Linked DNA regions of Homo sapiens: region 1 is linked to region 2. A link means that fine-mapping ties the variant in region 2 to the plasma level of a protein whose gene starts in the linked region. Region 2 holds a variant in brackets. A gene starts in the other region. All regions are shown on their reverse strands.

Region 1 (12,324 bases), not on the chromosome of region 2:
AAGGAAGGGGAGGATGGGTGGATGTGGGGTTAGGTGACTGTGGAGGCGGGGCTGGTCTCTGTCCAGGTGACAGGTGGATGGTGGAGCTGGAGGAGCCACTCGGAGCCTCCAAGGCTGGGGAGGGTGGAGGGGGGAGGCAGGTCGGTGTCCCAGGCCACACCTGTTGACTAAGGGATTAGGATGTTGTGTCCCTGCCAGCCCTCCTCCAATAAGCCCCTCTGGGCCTGCAGGGAGAGGAGGAGCCTTGCCATGTAAACTGTATTTTTAGTTCCCTGTGCCTCTCCCCGGCTGCTATAAGACACCTCTCCCCACCCCCAGCCCTGGCCGCTTGGCTGGAGGCTCTGCGAGGACAGCTGGGGAGAAGGGGAGCTGTGGTCAGTATGATGGATGCTGAGGGGCTGGAGAGGAGCAGCCCTGGTGGGTGGGTTCCTGGGAGTCTGGAGCAAGCTTGGGGGTTCTGCTGCCCCATCAAGGGCCTTGAGCAGGTCCTGCAACTCCCAGGCCTCAGCCCTGCTCTGAGCCCTGGCCTGGCGCTGGTCCAGGAGGGTAGACTCTGCCAGGGAGGCACAAGCTAAGCTGGGGGTGGGGTGGGAGGGCCTGCTGGCAGGAGGGAGGCACTGCCCAGACTGGCCTCCAAAGGCTGGTTCCCAGAAGGAGGAGGAAGAGAGTAGTGAAGATCGTGGGGAGTCCTGGCTTTGAGGAGCCAGAGTTCTCCTTCTTGCCACATCTTTGATCTCCCTTGGTGGTGTCTTAAGCCCAGATTTACCAAAGGGAATTGTCAGCTGTCCAAGGGCTAGCAAATTCCTAGGTCACCTAGATTGGATTTTCTGACCATAAAAACTGTGGGCCAGGTGCACAGCTGCCTGAGGGGCTCAAACCTGTGCAGGTGGGTGCTGGAATCCCCTTTGCTATAGCGTTCTCTTTGTGTGCATGTGACCAGAGGTGAGAGTGGCTGGAGACCGAAGATGGCAGAGCCCGTCTTTCTCCACCAGACTGAGGCCCCCGACTTGCCTTGCCTGGGGAGGGTGCTCAGTGGAAGTCCTGGGATGTTCAGTCTGGACAAGAAAAGTCTTGGGTGAGCCTGCTCCTTCTCTTGTGAGGCAGACTCAGCTGGGCCTCTATATCCCCAAGGAGCAGGCGGAGCTGCCGCAAGGAAGTGCACGTGACATGGAGGCATCTTTTGGTTCGACATAAAAAAGGATTTTTAAAGCTTTAGGTAGTGAGCTCACCACTCCCAGGAGTATTCAAGCAGATGCCAGATGATGATCTGTAGGGAAAACTATGTTTAGTGGGAAATTGGACAAAATACCGTTGAAGGCCTCTTTTAGTCACAAGATACTATGGCCCTATAATTCTAGATTTCTCTGCTTCTAGCTCTCTATAAGTCTGGAATCTAGAACCCAAGTTTCTCCGGTGCTGAAAAGTTGAAGACTTTGACACTCTAGAATTTTAATTCTGGGATCTCAAGATTCCAGAATTGGGAGCCTTGAGGATGATTCTACAAGTCTCAGTTTTGGATTCAAAGGATCCTGTGATATGAAAGGGAAAAAGAGGAGGTCTGACTTGGTGGGATCCAGTTTTGCCCCACTGGGTATCAGACTAATGTGCCCTGCATTCGTGCGTGTGTGTGCGTGTGTGTAGCATGAGCGTGTAAGGCTGTAGAAAGTTTTGCACACAAAGGCAGCCTGGCTTTCCTATCATGTGTCTGCAGCTTCTCTGCCCTGGCCATAATGAAGGCTGTCACAGGGATAATAATAGCCCCCAAACAGAGCTGGTGACTCCAGGTAGCCATAGCAACTGTGAGGTAACGCTGCTCTGTTGTAGAGATGTGTGAGTACAAACAGATGTCGGTGCCTTCCCATTAGCTTAAATGGTAAAACTTAAAAGGTCCATCAACTTCAAAGCTACAGGTTTCCATGAGCATGCCAGTTAATGGGGGCGCTTGCCAAGCGGGTGATAGCTTCATATTAAACATTTCAGCATCAGTAATGGGTTGATGAGATTTTAAATGCTCAGGCCATCCCCAGACAACTCAGGAGGCCAGAGACGGGAGAAGAGCTGGGATTCGGGTAGTAATCAGCCCTGCCCTGCCCCGCACCCTCAGGGGTGTTCTGACACTCTCGGGAGGGCACAGGCCAGAGAGCATTTGAAAACCGCACATTGCGTCTCAATCTCCAGGAGTCTCAGATCTGCCTCTTGGCCTTCCCCAGCGCACCAGGCAGGGGGCCCCAGGTCAGATGTGGCACAGCTCAATGCCATCTCCTTCTTTCTGCCCTCCTCTCTCACACCCTGGACTCACCTCCAGCGAGTGACCAGCAGTAAGGGTCAAACTGCTGAGAGTCTGAGACCGGGGCAGACCCTCTCAGAGTTGTCTTTCCTTCTGAGGCTGGGCCTGGCACAGACTGGGGCCTCAGTAATGGGCTTTCAAATGAATGAATGAACAAAGGAACAAACAGATGACTGACTGACTGAATGAATGAATGAGATCCCCTTTGGCATCCCCATGGCTTCTTTTTTTCTTTTTGAGATGGAGGCTCGCTCTGTTGCCAGGCTGGAGTACAGCGATCTCGGCTCACTGCAACCTCTGCCTCCCGGGTTCAAGTGATTCTCCTGCCTCAGCCTCCCAAGTAGCTGGGACTACAGGTTCGTGCCACCATGCCCAGCTAATTTTTGTATTTTTAGTAGAGACAGGGCTTGAACATGTTAGCCAGGATAGTCTCGATCTCTTGACCTTGTGATCCACCCACCTCAGCCTCCCAAATTGCTGGGATTACAGGCGTGAGCCACCACGCCCGGCCCCCCATGGCATTTTAGCTACTTATTTTGTTACTGCTTCTTCCACTGCTAAAGAGATGGGCCTTTGGAGGTCGGCTGGCCTAGCATTTGGGGTTGACTTCTGGAATGGTCACTAGGGAAGGGGCGCCAGAGGTGCAGCCGGTGCCTCTGACCCTTTTGGTCGCTAGGAGTCAGCCGACTCAGTACACAGGACTCACTGAATGGAGACACAAGGCTCCTCCAGGGAGTGGCGGCTCATGGCAATCCTAGAATGGTCACCAGCCAGGCTTTAGAGACCCACACAGAGGGCGTTCTGACCCAAAGTTGCACTGGGGAACTCCAAGTTTGGGGATTCTTTGAATTTAACTCTTTTTCTAGCTACATTTCCTATTATTTGTCCAATTCTTACCAAACATCTCTGTTCACATTCTGAAGCTGGGATCTGACTGGCAGAGCTAGTAGATGCTGACTATTCAGATGGAGCCCTGACATTGGCTTTCTCAGCTTGGCTGTGACTGGCAGCAGGTTTGCGGGAGAACTGTGTGTCCCAGAACATGACTGGCTACACCTGCACCTCAGCAAGATTGGGGCAGGGCAGTTATCTTCAAAAAGCTGTGTAGGTGGGGCAGTCATTACTGACAAATCCAGTGCAGACCCAGGATGGCCCAAACACTGGCTTATCCTTTCTGAATCTCATCTCCCACAGCTGTAAAGCGGGGTGGTGCTCGCTACCTCACAGAGGTGTTGTAAAGATTAGATGTAATCTTGCCAAGCAGCCACTTTGTAAACTGTATAGTCTTATGCAGATGGAAGGAAGGGCCTGTGCCTACCTTGATCATAGCACTAAACAAACTGTACTGTATTTTCATTCCTCTTAGTTATCTCCCTAAAAAGACTCTGAGTTCCTTGAACACAGGAAGGTGTTTTATTTGATTTTGTTATCCTCAGCATGTAGCAGTGTCTGACACACAGTAGGTGCTCTATCACTGTGAGAGGGATGGATGGATGGGTGGAGTTACAGATGGATAGAAGGATAGATGGAGGGATGGGTGGATGATGGATGGATAGATGGATGGAGGGGGGATGATGAATGGAGGGATAATGAGTGGATGAATGAGGGAATGGGTGGATGGATGGATGGAGGGATGGAGGAACAGATAGATAGATGGAGGGATGGGTGGGTGATGGATGGATAGATGGATGGAGGGAGGGATGATGAATGGAGGGATAATGAATGGATGAATGAGGGGATGGGTGGATGGATGAATGGAGGGATGATGGGTGGATGAATGAATTGAGGGATGGATGGATGAACACATGGATGGATGGATAGATGGATAGATGGAGGAACTGGTGGATTTTGGATGGATGGGTGGATGGATAGATGAATGAATGCCTGGATAGACAAAGAGATGATGGATAGATGAATAGATGAATTAAGGGATGTCGGATAGATGGAGGGATTGATAGATGTTGGATGGATGGGTGGTGGATGGATAGATGAGTGAATGCATGGATAGACAAAGAGATGATGGATGGATGAATTAAGGGATGACAGATGGATGGATGGATGAGTAACTGGATGGACAAGTGGATAAATGGATAGATGGTTGAATACCTGAATGGATTGAAGGAGGATGCATGGATGTAAGATAAGGCTAATCATCCTCCACTCTCTTTCTTTGCAAAACCATCCACCCATTTACTCAATAAACATTTATTCAGTTCAAACTTGGCACAAAGCACCATGTGAGGCCCAAGAGATACGTGGGTTAATAAAACAGAGCTCCTGCCCTCCTGAAAACTGCAAAGAAAGGGGCGTGGCTTCCTGAGTTCAAATCCCAACTCTGCCAGCGACTAGTTGTACATCAGTGATGTTTCCCTACTTTCTCTCAATTAAATAGGGATAATGTCAGTACCTATCACATTGGGAGGTCTTGCGGGGATTAAATGAGTTACCAAATGCCAAGTGTTTGGGACAGGGCCTGGCACCCAGCAAAGTCTCTTGTGAGTGCTGGCTGCTATTATCCTAATGGAGAAGATGGCATGAAAACCAGGAAATAGGATGCCCTTTGGGAAGCAATGCAACAGGAACTTACACAAAGAAAGGAAAGGAGGAAGCAATTAGTGGTGTCTCAAAGGAGTATGTCAAGAAAAACTTTTCAGAGGGAAACCTTTGAGCAGGGTCATGAAAACAGGAGTTCTCTAAGAGATTGTGGACTTGCCTGGGACCACCTGGCTATAAGCACAAAACCATCCGGTTCCTTTCTGTCACTTCTGGCTGGGTGAGGGGTCTCTGGCAAAGGGGCAGAAGGTGCGTGAGAGGTTGCGAATGGCCAGGACTGTCCTGGGGCCAGCCGGGGCACCTGGTGGCCAAGCTTAGAAACATGACAGGTCCTCTTGGGAGGGCTGACCGCAGGGAGCGTTGGGTTTCAGGCTGCTGGCGTCGGCTTCTGTGGTGCCCTTTCTGTCGGCTATGAGAGTCCAGACAGTGCCCAACCTCCTCCCCTTCTTTCCACACGCACAACCACCCCACCCCCTGTGGCCTGAGCTGTCCTGCCTCGCCACAATGGCACCTGCCCTAAAATAGCTTCCCATGTGAGGGCTAGAGAAAGGAAAAGATTAGACCCTCCCTGGATGAGAGAGAGAAAGTGAAGGAGGGCAGGGGAGGGGGACAGCGAGCCATTGAGCGATCTTTGTCAAGCATCCCAGAAGGTATAAAAACGCCCTTGGGACCAGGCAGCCTCAAACCCCAGCTGTTGGGGCCAGGACACCCAGTGAGCCCATACTTGCTCTTTTTGTCTTCTTCAGACTGCGCCATGGGGCTCAGCGACGGGGAATGGCAGTTGGTGCTGAACGTCTGGGGGAAGGTGGAGGCTGACATCCCAGGCCATGGGCAGGAAGTCCTCATCAGGTAAAAGGAAGAGATTCCATTGCCCCTGCCACCCACACCCTAAGATCAAGGGTGTTCAGCTGCAAGGTGGAAAGTTTGCACGTGGGGTAGGTCAGTTGGCTGCATTAGTTAAGGGTGTTAGAACGGTCACTTGCTTTTTCTTTGCTTTTAAGTGTCAGGGATTGGACTCAGGAGAGGGAAAGGAGCCATTTCAGGCTGATGTCAGCAGCTGGAGGAAGCATGAGAATCAAACCTAGGATGCTCAGAGTCCACCAGGAAGAATTTTAGAATTATAGACAGTCAGAGTTAACAAGGGTCCTGAGAGATTTTGTACAGCCACCTCTCTTACAGGATGAGGACAAAAAGGGACTGAGAAGGGGAGGACATTTCCAGAGTCACAGCTCATTAAATGCTCTTAAAGTGTCAAGGTTAAGACATGCTCTTCAAGGGGAGACAGATCTGGTTCTAGACTTGGCTCTGCCACTGAGCCACTGGGTGACCTTTGGGAAAGTACTCAACCTCTCGGAGCCTCAATTTCCTCTCCTGTACAGTGAGGGGATATCCTAATATCTATATCCTAGAGGAGATGTGAGAATTAAATAAAATAATGCATGCAAGAGGCCTGGCATGGTTCCTGGCATATACTGAGTCCTAGAAATGTTAGTAGCTATTACTGATGAAGCCCAGGCTAGGGACCTTTCAAAGCATTGCAATTAGAGAACAGAAGATAGAGGCTCATTAGTGACCTTCGATGTTGAGTATGTCTCTAGTTTGAGAGGTCTGAATGATGTGGTCTGCAAGTATATCCTGCCTTCTACCACAAGGGATTCCAGAATACACCAAAGAAAACAAAATTCTGAGGTTTGTAAATAGAGGGTGGCTGTGGTTTGTACATAGAAGCTCATCTCCTCGTTGCCTTCTATCCCAAAGGTGATACACTCTTCTCTTGGCCCCTTCCCTCACCATTCTGAGCTGGTTCCCTCAGAAGTCTAATAGGTTAAGAATCAACGTTTCTGCCAACGGGAGGAAGGAAGTGGGCGCCGGGGTTGCCACAAGTGAATGGATTGTCTTTGGCACTTTAATTTGCAGATTAATTTCTCCTTATTTGTGAGCCAGAGCCAATTTTCCTCTTCCACTCCGTCGTCCTTTGGGTCTCCCTTGGGCTTTACCCATTTCCAGCTTCCGTCTACCTCGGGAGCATGGCTGGTCCTGGAAGCTCCGTTATCTAAAATTTGAGCCGTTGGTGATCCGTGCTAGAAACACTTGAGGAAGAAGAGTTGAGTTTTCTGTTGACTGTAATGGCATCGTAGTGTGTTTATGTCTTTCTTCTCCTGTCCCTGTCATCTGGCTGCAACAGGCCCTGTTGGATTGCACAAAGTGCTCCCCCGACCAACACACACACACAAATTGACATCAACTCCTGGGCCACAGATATGCCATGTGACCTTGGACAAGTCTCTCCACCTCTGGGCCTTATTTCTCTGCTGGTTGAGCGAAGGGATTGTCTTCCATGGTCTCCGAGATCCCGTCCCACGCTCATGCCCTAGAATTCTCTGAGTCCTTGATGCACTTTTGCCTTTGGCGAGGAGGCAGGACAGTCAGGCGTGGAGGTAGGAGACCAGAGTTTGCAGAGCAGAGGTCTTTCCAAGGTGATTTGGGAGCTGCCAGACCTAAGGCAGTGACTTGTACGTCTTGAAAGAGACTCAGGGTGTTGCATCATCAGGGAGGATCACGGAGGTTTGCCGGGGGCCGGGAGCCAGGGATAAGACATAATGCCTAGGGTTGCTGGTCCCTGAAAGGTCCCAGAGGCCTGGTGCCCTGTCACGTCTTAGGTTGTGGGACATGCAGAGACTGTGCCAGCTGGTTCTGCCCTCTCAGTATTTGGGGTACAGGGAGGATGGCCTCCCTGGGGGCAGGGTGGAGGAGGCTCATGCCCAGGACTGCAAATGCCACCCGTGAGAGTTGGCATCTTGACTTTGTTCTAGATACTGACTCTGGATTTTCTAACTGACCTTGAAAGGTTATGTCTCCAATCTTCTGATTGTAAAAGAGGGCAAATTCCATGAAGCCCAGTCTGTAAAACACTGAGGCCTTCACTGCACGTACACAAACATAAAATTCTAGAACACAGAAGCTGGAAGGTCACTTGGAGATTCTGGCTCCAGGAGTGGGGCTTCGGAAGGGAGGGGGCTGCTGAGTGGGCTCCACACCCCTGTTTTTCCTTTCTTTACTCAAACCTTTTTTGTTTTATTTACTTTGGCTGTTTTGGGGAGCGGGGGGAACAAAGGATTTCAAGGTCATAAAATGTTTGAAAATCACCAGTGGTGGTCACTACTTCTCATTACAGGGAGGAACTGGGCCTGAGAGTCTCCACCGGTTAATGGCAGCCACAGGCAGGACCAAAAATTCCTGGGTGATGGTGATGATAATGATAATGATAATGATAATGGTAGAGATGATGAGGAGGAGAAAGACAGCAACCATTTATTCAGCACATACTGATTGCTGGGCTCTGTTTAAGTGTTTCACTCACTGAAGCCTGACAACAATCTTATGAGGTAGATATGATTATGATCACCACATTTAACAGAGAGGTTAAGTAACTTACGCCAAGTCACACAGCAAGTAAGAAAGGAGCTGGAATTCAAATTCAGGCAGCTTGGATCCAGAATCCTTGCTCCTTTTTTTTTTTTTTGAGATGGAGTCTTGCTGGGATTACAGGTGCATGCCACCATGCCTGGCTAATTTTTGTATTTTTAGTAGAGACTAGGTTTCGCCATGTTGGCCAGGCTGGTCTCGAACTCCTGACCTCAGGTGATCTGCCCGCCTTGGCCTCCCAAAGTGCTGGGATTACAAGCCAATGAGCCCGGCCCAGAATCCTTGCTCTTGACCACTATGCTATACTGCCCCATGACCTTGCCACACGCAAGACGGGCTGCCACCCACGCTCTGGTTCTTTTATTCTAGTAGAGCCAGAGGGGTGTTCATGGATCTGACAATGTGCTCCATGTTCCATGTGAGTGTCCAATTGGGCCTCAGTTCAGAGAACAGCAGGAAAATGGCCTCCCTTCTCTCTGACTTGGACTGAAGATCTGTCTGATGAACCAGGCCCACTGACAGCAGGGTTGAAGCTGGAAACACAGGCCAGCGGGGCTTTCTGAAATACTAGAGCAAACGCCCTCCGTCCATTTCCACAGGCTGAGGGGCTTTCATCTGTTCATTTTCCGGATCAGGCAAATCCAGGAGAATGGCCTTCTGTGGCTGCCTGGGGGGCTCCTAGCTGCAAGGCCTGGGCCCACAGGAGGCAGGCAGCTGTGTGGTGCCGGAATGATCTTGCGGGGAGACAAATTAGCCCGATTCTGCTCTGCTGTTTAAAGTAAATATGGGGTGGGGTGGGGTGGCTCAGGCCTATAATCCCAGCACTTTGGGAGGCAGGATCGGGGAATCGCTTGAGTCCAGGAGTTCGAGACCAGCCTGAGCCACATAGTGAGACCCCCCTTCTCTACAAAAAATAAACAAAATTAGCTGGGCGTGGTGGTGTGTGCCTGTAGTCCCAGCTACGCGGGAGGCTGAGGTAGGAGGATCACTTGGGCCCAGGAGATTGAGGCTCCAGTGAGCCAAGATCACACCACTGCACTCCAGCCTGGGCAACAGAGCAATACCGTGTCTCAAAAAAATATTAATAAAGTAAATATGAGCTCTCTCCCTGGCTGTCTGGTGTTGAGTGGAAAGAAAGGCATTGGCGGGTCTAGACCCTTTTGGTTTACATATGGATGAGCAATGATCCAGAGAGGCTAAGTGACTTCAACATCACAGAGCACATTGGCGCCAGAACTGGGACCGGAACTCAGCTTCCGTAACTGTCAGTCCCATGTTCTCTTCCCTAGATATCAGAGGGCAGGGGCAGGCCCCAAAATGTCTGAGACCCCCAGCTGCCTTGTGGCCCAAATTCTTGGCCCTGCTCTGCCTCAGACAGTCTGCTTTCAGCGTCCTGACCTCTGACCATCGCCTGTGCATGCCAGGTCTTGCATCTGTCAGGCGGGAGTTCAAGGATCATTGTCGCCAGATAATAATAGTCAGGAGCTCAGGGACCCTTGGATGAAAGGTGTCAGAGACAAGCCGTCAGTGACGCACGAGGATTTGGATAAGGTCCTGGAGCGAGGTGGCAATGTTGGGCACGGCGGCAGACCATGCCCAACATGGGGGAAGGGAGTGTATGTGGTTCAGGCTTGTGCGTGTCTCTGTGTGTGTGTGCAGGTGAGTATGGCGTGTGCTGGGATATATTTATGTGTACCTCTGTGTGAGTGTGCAGGCCCATATGTGAGTGTGCACACACATCTGTGAGAGCCTGCATGCATGTACACGTGTGAGGTGTTGATACATGTCCATGTAGGTATCAGTTTGCCTGTAAATATCTCTGTGTAACAATAACAAAGTCCGAATAGTCATCAAGAGTATAGACATGAAGCCAGACTGCCTGGGTTAAATCCCCAGCTAGTTAGTCTTTCGGTGCCTCTGTTTCTTCCTCTGCAAAATGGCGTCTACCCCATCAGGATTTTAAAATCAGTTAATATGGCTGGGCGCCTGTAATCCCAGCACTTTGGGAGGCTGAGGCAGGCGGATCACAAGGTCAGGAGATCGAGACCATCCTGCCTAACATGGAGAATTCTGAGAATTGCTCAAACCCAGGAGGTGGAGGTTGCGGTGAGCAGAGATTGCACCACTGCACTCCAGCCTGGGCAACAGAGCCAGATTCCATCTCAAAAAAGAAAAACAAAAAACAAAAAAACCATGAACTCATTTTCAGGTTGAGGAGCTCAGCATCCTGGTTGTGAAATACCCTCCTCATAAAACCCTGGGATGGAGACTACGGGGATCAGGTGCTTCCTTGTGACAACTTCTGGGCATGGTGGCTCAGGGCGCAAACTGGAGTGTGGCCACAATACATACTGTGTACTTTTACAAGGATGTCACAGAGCCTGGGTATCATAAAAGAGGAGCTTTTCAAGGAACTGAAACCATTAGACAGGAGAGAGAGCCCTGGGCAGACAGGGTTGCCCGTGCCAAACATTTCAGCTGTGGCACAAGGGAAAGGGTGGGAGTTATGAAACTGTTCCATTTTGGGTTTAGGTCTGGGCTCTGCCGCTAGCTAGCCAAGTGACCTTGGCCACTTATCTCTGTGGTCTTCCATGAGTAAAAGGCGGAAACTCACTCCTACCCAGAGGGCAGGTCTGACTCCCTTTAACCAGCACCCACCTGCTCACAGCAGGAAGGACTGAGGTCTAAAGCTGGAGGTGGGCAGGAAGGACTGAGGTCTAAAGCTGGAGGTGGGCAGGAAGGACCAAGGTCTAAAGTTGGAGGTGGGCAGGAAGGACCGAGGTCTAAAGCTGGAGGTGGCTGCTCAGAGTCCCAGCAGAGGCCTCTGGGGCACCTCACTGAGTGCCTGGCAGGAGTGGGTGCCTGTCTCAGGGCTGGGTTGAGTTGCTCCCACCAGGACCCTTCGTCATCTGCACAGTGAGGGGACTGGGAGGTTCAGAGAGTCACAGCTTGGGCTCAAAACAAGCAAGAGGTTTCTGAGTGTGAGGATTGCTCTGGAGTGGAATGGCCCTCACAGGTAGGAGTGAGCCTCCTGTAGCTAGAGGTATTTAAGCAGCTGAAGGACAATCCCTGGGCAGGAAGCTGCAGAGATGGTCGCAGCGTGGACTAGAACTGCTGTTTTGGTCACTCAGACCTCATTCCAGCCTGGCTTCTCTGGACAGCACCCCTGCAATAGTGAGCTGGTGACTTTACGCCTCAGAACCTCGGTTTCCACATCTGTAAAATGGGAATTATATGACACTCACTATGTGCCAGACACCCTGTTGGTACATAGCACACACTATCTCACTTAATCCTTCAAGTAGGGACAAGTTATCCCCATCCCTTATATGAGGAAGCTGAGGCACAGAGAGGTGAAGTGAATGGCCCAAGGTCACACAGCTGGGAAGACAGGGAGCTAAACTTGAACTCTAGTCTGGCTGCCCCCAGACCTCACACCGCACCTCCCATGCCGACTCCAGCCTTCCCTGTGCCCACAGGCTCTTTAAGGGTCACCCAGAGACTCTGGAGAAGTTTGACAAGTTCAAGCACCTGAAGTCAGAGGACGAGATGAAGGCGTCTGAGGACTTAAAGAAGCATGGTGCCACCGTGCTCACCGCCCTGGGTGGCATCCTTAAGAAGAAGGGGCATCATGAGGCAGAGATTAAGCCCCTGGCACAGTCGCATGCCACCAAGCACAAGATCCCCGTGAAGTACCTGGAGGTAGGAGCAGAGCCTGGGCAGGTGGGAGGATGCGGGGAAGGCCTCGGGTGGGGCAATGGGATCTGGGTTCGAGTCCAAGCTCAGCCACTAACTTGTGGGATGACCTATGCCACTCTTCTCTGTGCCCCAGGTTTCTCATTTGTAAAGGGGACTGCCACCCACTTTGCCTTCCTCCTGGGATTGTTGAGAATGAACACACTTAGCATTTTTAATTTAGTATGCCAAATTCACATCTTATTACCAAAGAGGAAAGGGAGAGGGGATATTGGGTGCAAAATTTGCATCCTCTCCATGGGTAGGTACCATTATCATATCCACTTGATAGATGGGGAAACTGAGGCTCACAGAGGTTAAGC
Region 2 (12,324 bases):
GCACAGCAAGAACCTCTGGGCAGGCTGAGAATGTGTTAACTCTCCCCCTGGCACACTCTCTCAGACTTTGTCCTGTGGATGCTCCACCAGAGCTGGGACTGAGACAAAGGAGCTTTTTGCCATGGATAAAAAGGGCAAGAAACTTCTCTAAATGCCAGGCTCTCCTGGAACCCAGATTTGGGTGGCAGAAGGTCAAGCATGGGGCAAAGAAGAAATAGGTCTTGCATTTCTTTCTAAAGGTCCTCTTGTGCAGGGTCCCCAAGGTTAAAGTGGTCCTCTGGGCATCCTAAACACAGCTATGGGGTTGCTCTGTCTGCTAGAGAACAACGCGAACAATGCTGTTACCTCTGAGGAATGGTGGCAACTGCCCCCAGCATAGTCCCCTTTGGCCTCTCTCCCCACCCTGGGGTCACCTGGGGGGACATCTGCAGCCTTGGGCCTTGAGCTTGGCCATCCTCCTCCTTCCTTGGGGCAGAACAAACCTGTCTTCCTTGTTTCATGATGGTGGGGGTAGCTGTGGTGTTGCGCTGGTTGGAGCTGACGAATCCACTGGTGCCCAAGAGGCCCAGGCGGGCGGAAGGGACGTTCCGAGAGGGGATCTGGTACTGGCGCGGGTTCCGTCTGCCCATGCCACCGCCCACAGAGCCAGCCGTCGGGAGGGAGTTGGATTGCCCAAAGCCTCGACTGTGAGAGCCAAGAGAGAAGGAAGAGAATATCAGTCGTTATTCAGCCCTTTTTAAGCCACAGGCTTCCCAAGGGATGTCGCCTTGGAGGTCTCCTCATTTTTTTTTTTTTTTTTTTTTTGAGTCAGGGTCTCACTCTGTTACCCAGGTTGGAGTGCAGTAGTGAGATCTAGGCTCACTGCAGCCTTGACCTCCTGGGCTCAGGTGATCCTCCTATCTCAGCCTCTGGAGTAGCTGGGACTACAGGCATGTGCCACCATGCCCAGCTAACTTTTTTTTTTTGGTAGAGATGGAGTCTCACTATGTCGCCCAGGCTGGTCTCAACTTTTCAGGCTCAAGCGATCTTCCCAACTCAGCCTCTTGAGTAGTTGGGACTACAGATTTTTATATTTTTGGTGGAGACAGGGTCTACCATGTTGCCCAGGCTGGTCTGGAACTCCTGAGCTCAAGTGATCCTCCTGCCTCGGCCTCTCAAAGTGCTGGGATTACAGGCGTGAGCCACTGCACCCCGCCTCTGCTCACATTTTGACAGTTATGAAGCCTACAGGGAGCTGTGTGCCAGCAAATAACTATAATTAAAACAGCAGCTAACATCTGAGAGGCGGTATCACATGGAACTTCCTGGGACTTCGACATTATTTTTCGATCCTTGCAACAACCCTATGAAGTAGGTGCTCTCTCCTTTGTAGCTGGAGAAGTAAAACAGCGCGTAATCCTTGTGCACAGGTCACACAGCCAGCAGGGGGCAGCGCTGGCACGCAGGCTCAGCAGGTTCACCAGCACTCTGCCTGCCGCCTTGCGCCTCCCTACCGCATCTTCTCCAACCCATGCTGCTGCAGATGAGGACACAGGTCTTGAACACTCACATGCTTTTGAGAGGCCACATAGCAAGAAAACAGCAGAGTCAGGGTCACAACTGGTCTGACTCCTGTCCCAGGGCTCCCTTCTTTAATCCTATCATTGTTTCTGCTCAGCCTGTCTGTGTGGCGGACTTGGAGAAGCCTGTGAGGCCCACCAGGATGTAAGCTCCATGTCTGTCCTCATCCATCCTGCATGTCCGGTGCCTGAATCAGTTTCTGCACAGTGAATGCAGTTGAATGAATGAACCAATGAGTCTCTGCCATCATGACGCATCCTCAAATGGGAGAGCTGATGCCACCTGTGGGGCGAGGGATATAAGGTCGGAGATGATGTTTGCAAGTGTTCTGGACCTAGGACACAGACTGCCTTCACTTCACAGGCCCTCCCTGCAAAGTCGGCTGCATAAGGGCCAGGGCAGGTCCATGCTTCTCCTGGGTCCGGGCAGGGAGGCTGCCAGAGCCCTTAGCATCACGTGCAGATGCCGGCGCTGCCGTTGGGTTGGGTGACCTCAGCACTGAAGAACGCATCCTCTCTGACACGCCTCAGGTCCGGGAGGTTATACAGCAGCCGGCAGGGTTTCAGGAACCAGCACATTCTTTCCAAGAAGAGTCAGCTGTAGTCATTCACGGATGTTGAAGTCAAAATGTTTTACCTCCAGTGGCCACAAGATGGAAGAGATCTGCTTTTCCAGCGACACAGGGGAGGTTTGTACCAAGCCTGTGGGGAGACTCCGGGAAGCAGGGCTGACGTAGTTTAACCAGTTGAGGGTGATAGGGGCCTGCAGAACAGTCATTTCCTGAGAAAGAGAGCTGTGCCTGTATGTAGGGGGAGGGGCATCTGAGCCAGCAGTGCAGATCTCAGAAAATGTTTCTCTTCTCCCCAGAATTCTTAAATTTCCTAAGGGGAGAAGTGGCAGGAAGGAGAATTCTGGGCTTGTGCCTTTCTACTTCCAGGCTTTGGTGGCCAAGGAAGGAGTTCTAGATTCTGGTCAGAAGCTCATCTGAATGTGGTGAGGAGGACACTCACAGGTTCTTGGTATCTTTGTCTTGGCCTTTCTTCCTTTTTTCTCCCATTTTCCCTTTTAAAAATTTCGTTTTCATTTTTACGAAGGCTTCAGATTTTTTGGTTTGAAGGAAGAACTCAGGGCCAGGAGGGGTAGAATAAGTTTCACATGATGAGACCTCCTTTGGAGGAAGGACAATCTGACTACGTGAGGTAGAGACAAGGGCCGAGTGTTTTTTTTTTTTGTTTGTTTGTTTTTAATGACGAAAACTAGTCCTTTGAGTTCTGAAGTCGGAATTTTGGCCACCTGGTAGATGATTCAGTATTCTGCTATGATTTTTCCTTATTTAGCGTGGATAGCGTTTTCTCACTTTCCTTTTTGGTTGGATTTTTAAAAAGTTATTTCATATGCAAAATACAGAGTCAATGAGTGATGCTAAAATGATTTGTGTTTCCAGGAAGGCAAGACTGAATTCTTAAGCAATATAATGTGGGAAGAGGACTCTGTTATGGGATACTTATAGTCACTGGAGAAAGGAGGGATCCAGGGACTCTTAGGACTCAGCTGTATAGGGGAGGGGAGTAGGACGTGATGAGGGGAGAATTTGGCTAGGCCATCTTTCTCTCTCCTGATGGGACCCTTCGAGGGTTATTACAAAGCCAGCTTTGCAGAGGGTTGCCACTGCTGGCAACCAGAGTGAATGCTTGGGTTACTTAAGATCGCTAGGCTTAATGAAATCATCAATGCTTTCTGGGGAGAGAACAAAGTGACAAAAGCAAGTTTTCCTTTCTCATTCTCTTGCCTTACCTTTCTAAATCTGATTTCATTACACTGAAATGTTGAAATGCATGAAAAGTCTTTGATAAAGTAACATTAATAAGAACCAATTAATTTGGGATTTGTGATAATTCAAGCAGGGGTTGGGTTGCAGTTACCTTTGTATTATTGGAGAAACAGGTCTTCAAAGCAAATTAATAGCACAAAAAGATCCCAGAGGAAATACTTATGAGTATAAAACATTTTCCAGCCTTATAGTAACATCCAGTTGAACATCCACAAGCGATTCATTCTTATCTAATCAATTAAAAGGGGTCCATTAGGACTCCAACCTGGCAAACCTTGGGTTAGCCCAATCCAAGTGTTACTAACAAACACCCTGGAGAGGTCAAGGTTCATGTCCCCTGCTCCACCTCCAGAAGGCTCTCGGATGTGGACCAATGACAACACAGGGCTGACAGAGGCCAGGGTGGGACTTTGGGAGGAGCAGCAAAGAGCCGCCCCATCTTCATCTCCAACCTCCGAATGCCTTCTTCCTCTTGGAACTTGTCTCCCAAGGGCCTGGTGTTGCAAGAGGAGTCTGGAACCTTTTCTATTCACCTGGGAAAAGTATTGCTGCTCTCAGAGAAAAGCCACTTGGGATGGGGGTAGGCCCCAGGGCAGGAGGCCAAGGAAGCAGACCTTGCCTTTCATCTGGGCCATCGGGAATCCTCAGGGCAAAGAGGTAGTCTAGTCCAACCCACAAGGGTTGGCAACCCCAGAGGGCTTGGGGCCAGGGAACTGGTCCTGAAGAGTGTCGCTTTGCCTGAACAATCTTTTCTGCTCATCATCCTGAGACCATGAGAGTTGCCTGGCTTCCATAGGGTTAAAAGCATGGAGCTGGAGCTGGTGCCAGCCTGCCTGGTTCAAATCCCCAATGCTGCTGCCTATGAACTTGTCTGTAAATGGGGTTAACAACAGCAGCTCTACCTCACATGGTTGTCATGAGGATTAAATGTATTAATATTCTTAAAGTGCTTGGATACCACTTGGCATATGTAAGTGCTAAATAAATGTTTGTTTAATAAATAACCGTTATATATGCTGGAATGTGATCACACTTCAGTGTTAAAATTAATCTTTCATGAAGTCTTTTCACAAACTTCAACTGGCCTTATCTCCCTTAAATCCAAAATAGTGATGTTTTAAGGCACGCTTACGCAAATAAATGCCCAAAATTTTAACACCACGGGCAGAGAGCTTCTATACATGCACCGAGAAATGAAATGAATTCAGACCCTTTCAGGTGCAAGTGAAGAAATTATCTGCTCATGTTTTAAAAGTGTAAAATAGAATGTTAATTTTTCAGGATGTTTACATTCTCATTCCCTTATGTCCCAACAATTCCCTATCATTGTTTAAGGCTTAACCCTTCCTCTACCCTTAATTTCTCCCACAAATTGTCACTGCAGTTCATCTTTAATATGTAATTGGATTCCTCAATTTAAAACTATATTAAGGTAATGGGTTCTAAAGTACAACCAGGCTTATTTTTAACTGCGTGCAAGAAGCTGAAGTACTATGGAAAAATCAAGAATTGTACTGCTCCACTATGAGACTGCAGACCAAAATAGACTAGCACTGGGCTCTTCACCCTGCCACCAACTATAATTAGCTTGTCTACAGCACGAAGGGGGAAAAAAATCACACTACCACTTAAGGTGCTGATTGATAGAACAACCCATTTTTATCCTTTCAGATCCCCCTTTTGTGGGTAAGCCATCCTGTGTTTTGCCTGCATTTGTTAAATCATACCCACTCTCCCCTCTGATACCCATCCGGACTATTACCATCATTTTGACAATGCAAACTGTGTTACAAAAGCTCACATTCAGCTCTTCGCCTGGGAATGCTCACTCTCACAGCCTTTTCCCAGCCCCACCTGTTTAAGCAATGCAATTTGGAACTCGCCACAGGGCATCTTCGTGAACAAGGAATGGTGCCCTGCCATATTCCTGCCCCAGGAACCGAGGTAGGCAACAAGGCGCCAGGGGAACCACTACGCATTACAAAGAATGAAATCCCAACATACTTTCTTTGCTGTCGATATCCTGATATGTCTAGAAGGGTTTTCCGAGGGAAAGACCGAAAGAGCTTCTGCACCTGCTGTTTCCATGACAACAATCTTTTTTTCTGTGTCTCTGTAAATGCCTGCAAAAACAAACAGGACTTTTAAATGGGTGACGCAGCCTGGCATTAGAGGGAGAAACATGCAATTAATAAGGGGAAAACATTGGAGTCTCTGCAGTTGCCTTTTCTTCACCTGTTTCTAACCTGGTCCAAACGTAGTCAGTTTAATTTGGGAGCTGCCCTATTTTGAAAATTTAAGTTATCTGACATTGGAGGTGCGTGATAAGGTACACGCATCAAACTGTTGACAACCCTCATTTTTGGTGACATTTCTGGCAGATCCATATCCACATTCCCCCTCCCTCCTGACTCCACTCCAGACTCTATTTATTAACCAAGAATGAATTGCAAAATTGATTGTTGAATACTCTGGCTTTTGCAGGCCCCCTGCATTTTCATAATCAATGAAAATTCTCAACCACTCCAAAAATCAATCTGCTTGATGGTGTGTGGGCACCCTAGAGTGGTCTACAGGGTGTCAGAGAATGGACTATATTCTCTGTGTTTCAGGGCTTTGCTGAGACATCTCCAGTTAATGGGTCTCTTGCCTTACAAAAATTCCAGTGTACCAGTCCTGACTTAAACCTTCTCTAAAGTTTAGGGAAGTATGTAGGTCTGATGCCTGCAGAACTCTTTTCTAGCAAAACTGGTGTGTGTGTTTTGCCTGCTGCCTTGTAACAAACTCTTACCTATGTTATATTTCCTTTTGCGTTTAGCCTTTGTACTTGCCACAGACTAGGAAAGGACTTTATGTGGGTTAGGAGTCTCCAAGGCAGGAACTCTCAGATTCATGATATATTAGAATCACCCAAGGAGACAGTCAAAATTCAGATACCTGGGCTCCCTTCCACATGCCCAGAGCCTGATTTAGTAGATCTGAAGGGGATGTCTAGAGAGTTTGTGTTTGTACCAAGTGCCCTGGTAATTCTGCTGCAGGTAGAGCATGAACATGAGGTGTTCTAGATGGTGAGGACCCCACGTCACATATGAATCCCCTGCCAAGTGACTAGAACTGTAACTTAGAACACGTGCTGTGGGAAATCCATGTGATTTGATTGATTCACAGTAACAAGGAGGGAGAGAAGTTTCCGAAGCAGTTTTGTCAATAGGGCATGAATTCCTTTAAGTAGTCATAAAATATTACTCAGTAACAGACTAAATGACTAGTTCCCATAAAGGAAACAGATTCCTTAAATGGAGAAAAAAAATGACAGCTTAGTTGTCTCCCAGTGATGCTGAATCTTTAAGGACCTAAATACCAGGAGAACTCTGTGGACAAAAGCAGAAGGATGTTAATCATGTGGCAGAAACGTCATTGAGGACTTACAAACCCCTTCTTCCCGGGTGACCTTAGCCAGATGCCATTAAGAATATGCATCAAGGTGGGCTAGGAGGCGAGGGCGTGGCTCTCCTCCACAGTCCCTCTCATTGGTTGGTGATGCTCCCTGCATGTCCAGCTACACACGAGTACCTCTGAAACTGGGCAAAAGGCAAGCGTTTCTGCTGGACTAACAGCGAGAGGGGATCATTTCTGCTTTTGACTGGCTTATTCAGCCACAT[G/A]TTGTGTGAGGACACATGTGGGCATGCTGGTCAGGGTGACCTGGGGAGGAGAGTTGTGGGCCAGAGGAAGGCTCTGGATGCAGATGGGCAGGGCTCGAATCCCTGCACGCCTTTACGCATGCCCCTCTACCCAAGACTCAGTGCCTCCTAGAAACTGAGGATAATAATATCTCCCTCAAAAGGATGTTGTGAGAATGAAATAACACATGAACAACACTTAGAATACCTGGAACGTGCCTCGCTCTTAATAACGGTTCAAATAGATGCCACTCACAGGTGTCACACTGGGGTTTTGTTTTGGACTGCACAGACCGGCCGTTTGGTGGTGGTATACGGCTGTTCATCGCGTTAAGTATTCAACATGACCTTGAGCTCCAATAGCACACAGCAAATGACTTCAAGGTCTCTAAACTATAATACTGAGCTGGTCTGGTGCCAGCCTGAAGGACAACTGGCCTGAGTTTCCAAGTGACAACGGAGTAAAGGGCTCATTTCATGGATGTGCTTCCTAAGACATCATTACAGACATGACATCTTCCCTGGTGGCAAACAGCATCCAAGAAGGTGGGAATGTTGGCGCCTTCCTGGGGAGGTCGGCGCATTCCCTGAGCACCTCAATGGGCAGCGGGCTCCTTTCCTTCAGGGCTGCAGATGGGAGCCAGCCCATTAGCAGTGCTGAGTGAGAGTGGGGGCCGGTTCTCAGCTGGGGATGTGGTGCTCGGTTGTGGCTGGCTTCAGGAGTTTCTGAACACTGGTTCCTGGCCTACAGGGGAGTGCTCAGTTATGGGGGATCTGCATTGGCTATGATGCCCAAAATCTCACTGCAGCCCCCTCCGCTGGCAGCCCCAGGTTGGGCTGGGGAGCAGCTTCCCAAGGGGCCTGGAGGGGAAGGGAAGGCTTCATGCCCAGCAACTGCCCAGGCACCCCTAGTCACCACTCCAGAGTTCTGGCCCTCTCAGGCCTAGACCAATGCATCTGTCTGGAGGAAGATGGCTATGGTGTCCCAGCATATGTGGCTGGATGAAAAGGTTCATAAAGCGGCAAGAGCTCATCTTCTCAGAGCCACCTCAAGACACAGGGAAGTGCCCAGAGGCCTGGGATTATAATTCAGGAGTCAAAGTGACTGGTCTCAGAAGTAAAATTCAGAACTTTCCTCTCCTTCCATTCATGACTCTGGGGACTCGGTCCCTCCATCCCGGGAAGGAAGGGAGGTGTCCTGGCCCACTCAATACCTTCCCTGCTCCCAGCCAGCTAAGGAACAGCGTGTCCGGGCTATGAAGGGGCGTCCTGTCTCTCTGTGCCCGGGTGAAACTTCTTCCAGGATGGAGGCTGTGCGCCTTCACGGGGCCTCACAGGCAGGGCGTGTTCTACCCACACAGAATAACCGGAGGCTGTGGAAAATTATTCAGACAGCTTTTCCTCTCTCTCAAAGTAAAATCATAAAAAGCCCTGAACAACATTTTCCCTTCCAAAGCAGCACGCAGGCCCCTCCATCCTGACATGAACTTAGCAAGCAGACACCTCACCAGCTCCTTCCTGACCGGGGCCCCCAGCCACGAGAGGCCCCTCTGGGCAACCAGAGGAGATCACCTGGGGCTGCACGGAGGTCAAGGGGAAAAAACAAAACCAGAGCCAGGGTACCAAGGGAGGACATGCAGGATGGCAGGCAAGCAGGAAGCGTCAGGCCAGAGTTTCGGGGCTGCCGAGGGACAATTAGGAAGCCTGTGGATTGTTTGGCACAGGTAGCTGGAGGACTCACGATTTCTGTCTCATGGGCTCAGCTGTCTTGAGGCAAGGTGGACAGTACCTTGTCCTCCAATATCAATGCTGAGAGCAGGCGTGGGAGAGGAAGCAGAGTTCCGGTGTGCTTTTATCAGAGGCTGAAATCCTCCCCATTCCGTCTGCCCCAAGCCACCCACAAATGTCCTACTTCTCAACAAAACACGGAGCCCTGCAGACATCACTCTCTTCTGCCTCCTTACGAACCGAGTCTGTACCACCAGGACTCTCGCTTGCCTTTCAGGTCTCAGGGTGGAGAGGGTTCCTCCACGGAAATGCCCTGTTCTGGCTCCAGGTTTGGTGCCCGCTGCTGCTGCTCCTCTGTGCTCCAGGGCACTCAGGGATGACCTTATCAGAGGCTTTCTCATCATGGCTGTGATGGCCTGTTTCTTTCTGTCTCACCCCTTCTCTCACTACTGTAACCTGCCTAATTCTCTCACTACTGTAACCTGCCTAGGTGCTCAGTAAGTATCTAGGGAATGGACGAGTTGTAACATTCTTCACTGTGTTCTTGCTTTCTCTTCCTTTGTCGCTTTTTCCTGGCCAAAACGAGTCCAGTGTCAGGATTCGAAATAGAAAAGGATTAGTCAAGGCTTGTGGGGAGAAGGCCTTGTCCCTGAAACAAAGTCACAAATAAGCCTTCAGTACGGGCTTTTGACAATGCCTGGGTGCTCTAGGGAAGCCATTAAAGAGGGAAAAAACCATTTTTTTTTCAGTGAAAAGTCTAGTACTTTGGTATAGTTAAACATTTCAGAGGATGGCGTGTCTGAGCCCCCAACCTAGGCGGCTGGTCACTGTAGTCACACTGACAACTTTGGCCAGAGCCGCTTGGGCACATAAGAATCCATACGGCCAAGAGGAGAAACTGCAAAAATGAGGGTTTGGGGAAGTGGGGAAGGGGGAGCTGGGATGGAATCCCAGAGGGGGACTGTACCCTTGTATGTGAAGTGTGGGTAGTGGGTGAGGGCCGTGAGAACTTCGATAGCACAGGGCCCATGTGACAGCTGGAAGGGTGAGAACATGAGAGGGAAGTGGAGAAGGGGCCTGGCCGCTGTGCTGGGCGTCTCCCTTCACCGGACCCTACTGGACTCCTGGAGTACTGGCTGCCCATGCAGCAAAGGTGAGGAGGCCTGGGGCCTTTACTATTTTTTTTTTTCCCCGAGACAAGTCTCACTGTGTTGCTCTTGCTGGAGTGCAGTGATAGGATCATAGCTCACTGTAGCCTTGGCCACCTGGGCTCAAGCCATCCATCCTCCCACCTTGGCCTCCCGAGTAGCTGGGATTACAGGTGTGCGCCACCACACCTGGCTTTTTTTTTTTTTTTTCGTAGTGACAGGGTCTTGATATGTTTCCCAGGCAGGTCTCAAGCTCCTGGCCTCGAGTGATCCTCCCACCTCGGCCTCCCAAAGTGTGGGGATTACAGGTGTGACCCACCACCCCGGCCCCCTTACTATCTTATTCTCACATCGAAATCCTACAAAAAGACTTCACCATCCTAGGTTTATCTGGTCCCAAGTTTTCTCTAGTCTAGGCCTTGCTGCTGTAGCTCTTTGTGGGGAGGGAGGGGTGCCCAAGGAGCCACTGGAGTTTTAGGTCTGAGGTGCAACTCCCTCTCCCTACATGTCCCTTAGGGACAGCCACCAGTGCTGACGGCTGCCTAGCCCCGCCATGCCAAAGGGTCTATCTCACTCTGTATATGAAGACTGTGCCTGAGGGTCCAGTAGGCACACCTGCAGCCTGCCTCAGGCCTCCTCCAAAAGGATATGTGGCAAATACGATTCCTACAACAATCGCAAGCCCAAACACACACACACATATACACATTCATTATTTCTTTATGGGCTCTCTTTCTCCCTTCCTCTCTCCAGTTCCCTGAGCTAAAAGGCAAGAGTTCAACACAAGATTTTTAAAAGACCTGACAATGCCCAGGGCTAAGCAGCAGGGCTCATGTGTTACCCTCTGAGGCTTGGCCACCCGGGGCTGCTTCCCCAGCCAGAAGTCGTTGCAGGCGTTCACTGCACATCAGAACACTCAGTCTGGGCAAATCTTTGGACACCAAAGTAATGTTCAAGCTGTGTTTGGGTTTGAGGCTGTCATAGCCTAGTTCTGCCCAACCTATTATTAATAACTGTCCACCACTCAAAAACAAGTTGTTGGAGGCTAAAATGATCACATCACAGAAACTCTGAGAACCATTTCTAAGCAATAAAAAAAAAATGGTTTTGTAAAACCTGTCACTACTCACCTCATGAATTAGACACTTGTCTATGAGCTGTAAATAGGAACTTATATTTTCCTCATCAGGTCTGGAGACCAAGAGCTGTGTGCACACTGTAATTAAAAAGAAAAGATGAATTAGAAAAATGCACCCCTTTCTAATCTCTGGGACCTGACTCTCATTTCCCTTCAGGTCCAACACTCTGAGAGGTATGTGTGTCTGTGGCTTTATGTAAGGCTCACAAAAAAGGCCAAGAGGCTCCTCATTCCACAGAAGTCAAAGGCTGGGTCACCGTGGGAGCCCTTGTCTCGAGAAGCCCCTTGGGTTAATTCCAGTCATGCCATTCTATATGAAGCCTTCTGCAATAAGACACTGCAATAAGAGGAAGAACACAGCAGTGAATAGTGGCGTCCTGAGCTTGGTCTTTGAAAGTGGCTCTGTGTGAGGGGCTTCAGAAGTATCCAAGACCCTGACACTGTCAGAGAGCAGCCTCCGTGATTTTATGAATGAGCGCACACCCCTCGCCAGGTGCAGAGACAGCGGCGTTTGTGTTTGGAGGAACGAGCTGGCACCTCCTGGAGACGGGGAGGTGTGTGGGTGTGCACATGTGCAGGAGGCCTGCTACTCACTCCTCAGAGGGTTGCTTTCTCAGAGTGATATGCACATTTATGCACACACAGGCGCAGGCTCACCTACACACTCAAGTCAGTGCTAAATAGGATGGAACAGAGTTAGTCTGCGGGTAGAGTATACACACGCACTAGGTTTCTCACGGCCATGTTACTGTGGCCCATTCTGGTCTCATTGTAGAGGTGACGATTCCCCGACTTTCTTAGTCATGTGTACAGGGCCACAGTGGAGATGGGTGGACAAAAGGAGTCAGCCAGAGAGTAAAAATGTCTGACACTCAAGGAGACCAAGCTTGAAACCTGGCATCATACTTGATTCCTCCCTGTCCCTAACCCTGCATGGCTGATTGGTCACACAATCCCATTTATTTCTTGCCTTTGCACATACACTTTCAGTATAACATTGTTTGTCATAACAAAACCTTGTAAACTACCTCACTGCCTATTAATTGGGACTTTGTTAAATACATTACGGTTTATGCATACAGTGGAATAGTATGCCATCTTTAAAAAAAACTTTGAGATGGCGCTATTTGTACTGATAGAAATATTGTAAGTATATATACTTTTTAAATTTTATTATTTTGTTTTTGAGAGACAGGGTCTCACTATGTTGCCGAGGCTGGTCTTGAACTCCTGGGCTCA

Which allele goes with the higher level. Positions count from the first base shown, and alleles are read on the strand shown. Strength reflects both the effect of a copy and how common the allele is.
As copies of G replace A in region 2, the plasma level of the protein whose gene starts at base 5,523 in region 1 goes up (weak association).

The links. PIP is the posterior inclusion probability: the model's chance that the variant is causal. The UK Biobank Pharma Proteomics Project read protein levels with antibody pairs (Olink). The fine-mapping took linkage between variants from a reference panel, not from the people measured, so its PIPs are less certain.
Region 1: MB starts here. The variant in region 2 is fine-mapped to the plasma level of the MB protein (UK Biobank, PIP 0.99).

What each region holds. Positions count from the first base shown.
Region 1 is chr22:35,610,528-35,622,851 of GRCh38, reverse strand. MB (myoglobin) reads left to right here and starts at 5,523. Exons shown (of 3, transcript NM_005368.3): 1 at 5,523-5,689; 2 at 11,746-11,968. The coding sequence starts at 5,595. RefSeq lists an enhancer at 269-784 and a silencer at 10,763-10,812.
Region 2 is chr14:54,763,294-54,775,617 of GRCh38, reverse strand. SAMD4A (sterile alpha motif domain containing 4A) reads right to left here. Exons shown (of 13, transcript NM_015589.6): 8 at 11,078-11,163; 9 at 5,396-5,514; 10 at 483-684. Among named protein-coding and RNA genes, the nearest start is that of SAMD4A-AS1, 82 kb to the right of the region's middle. RefSeq lists enhancers at 1,292-1,341, 1,215-2,143, 1,427-2,626. The variant G/A (reference allele first, on the strand shown) is at 7,054.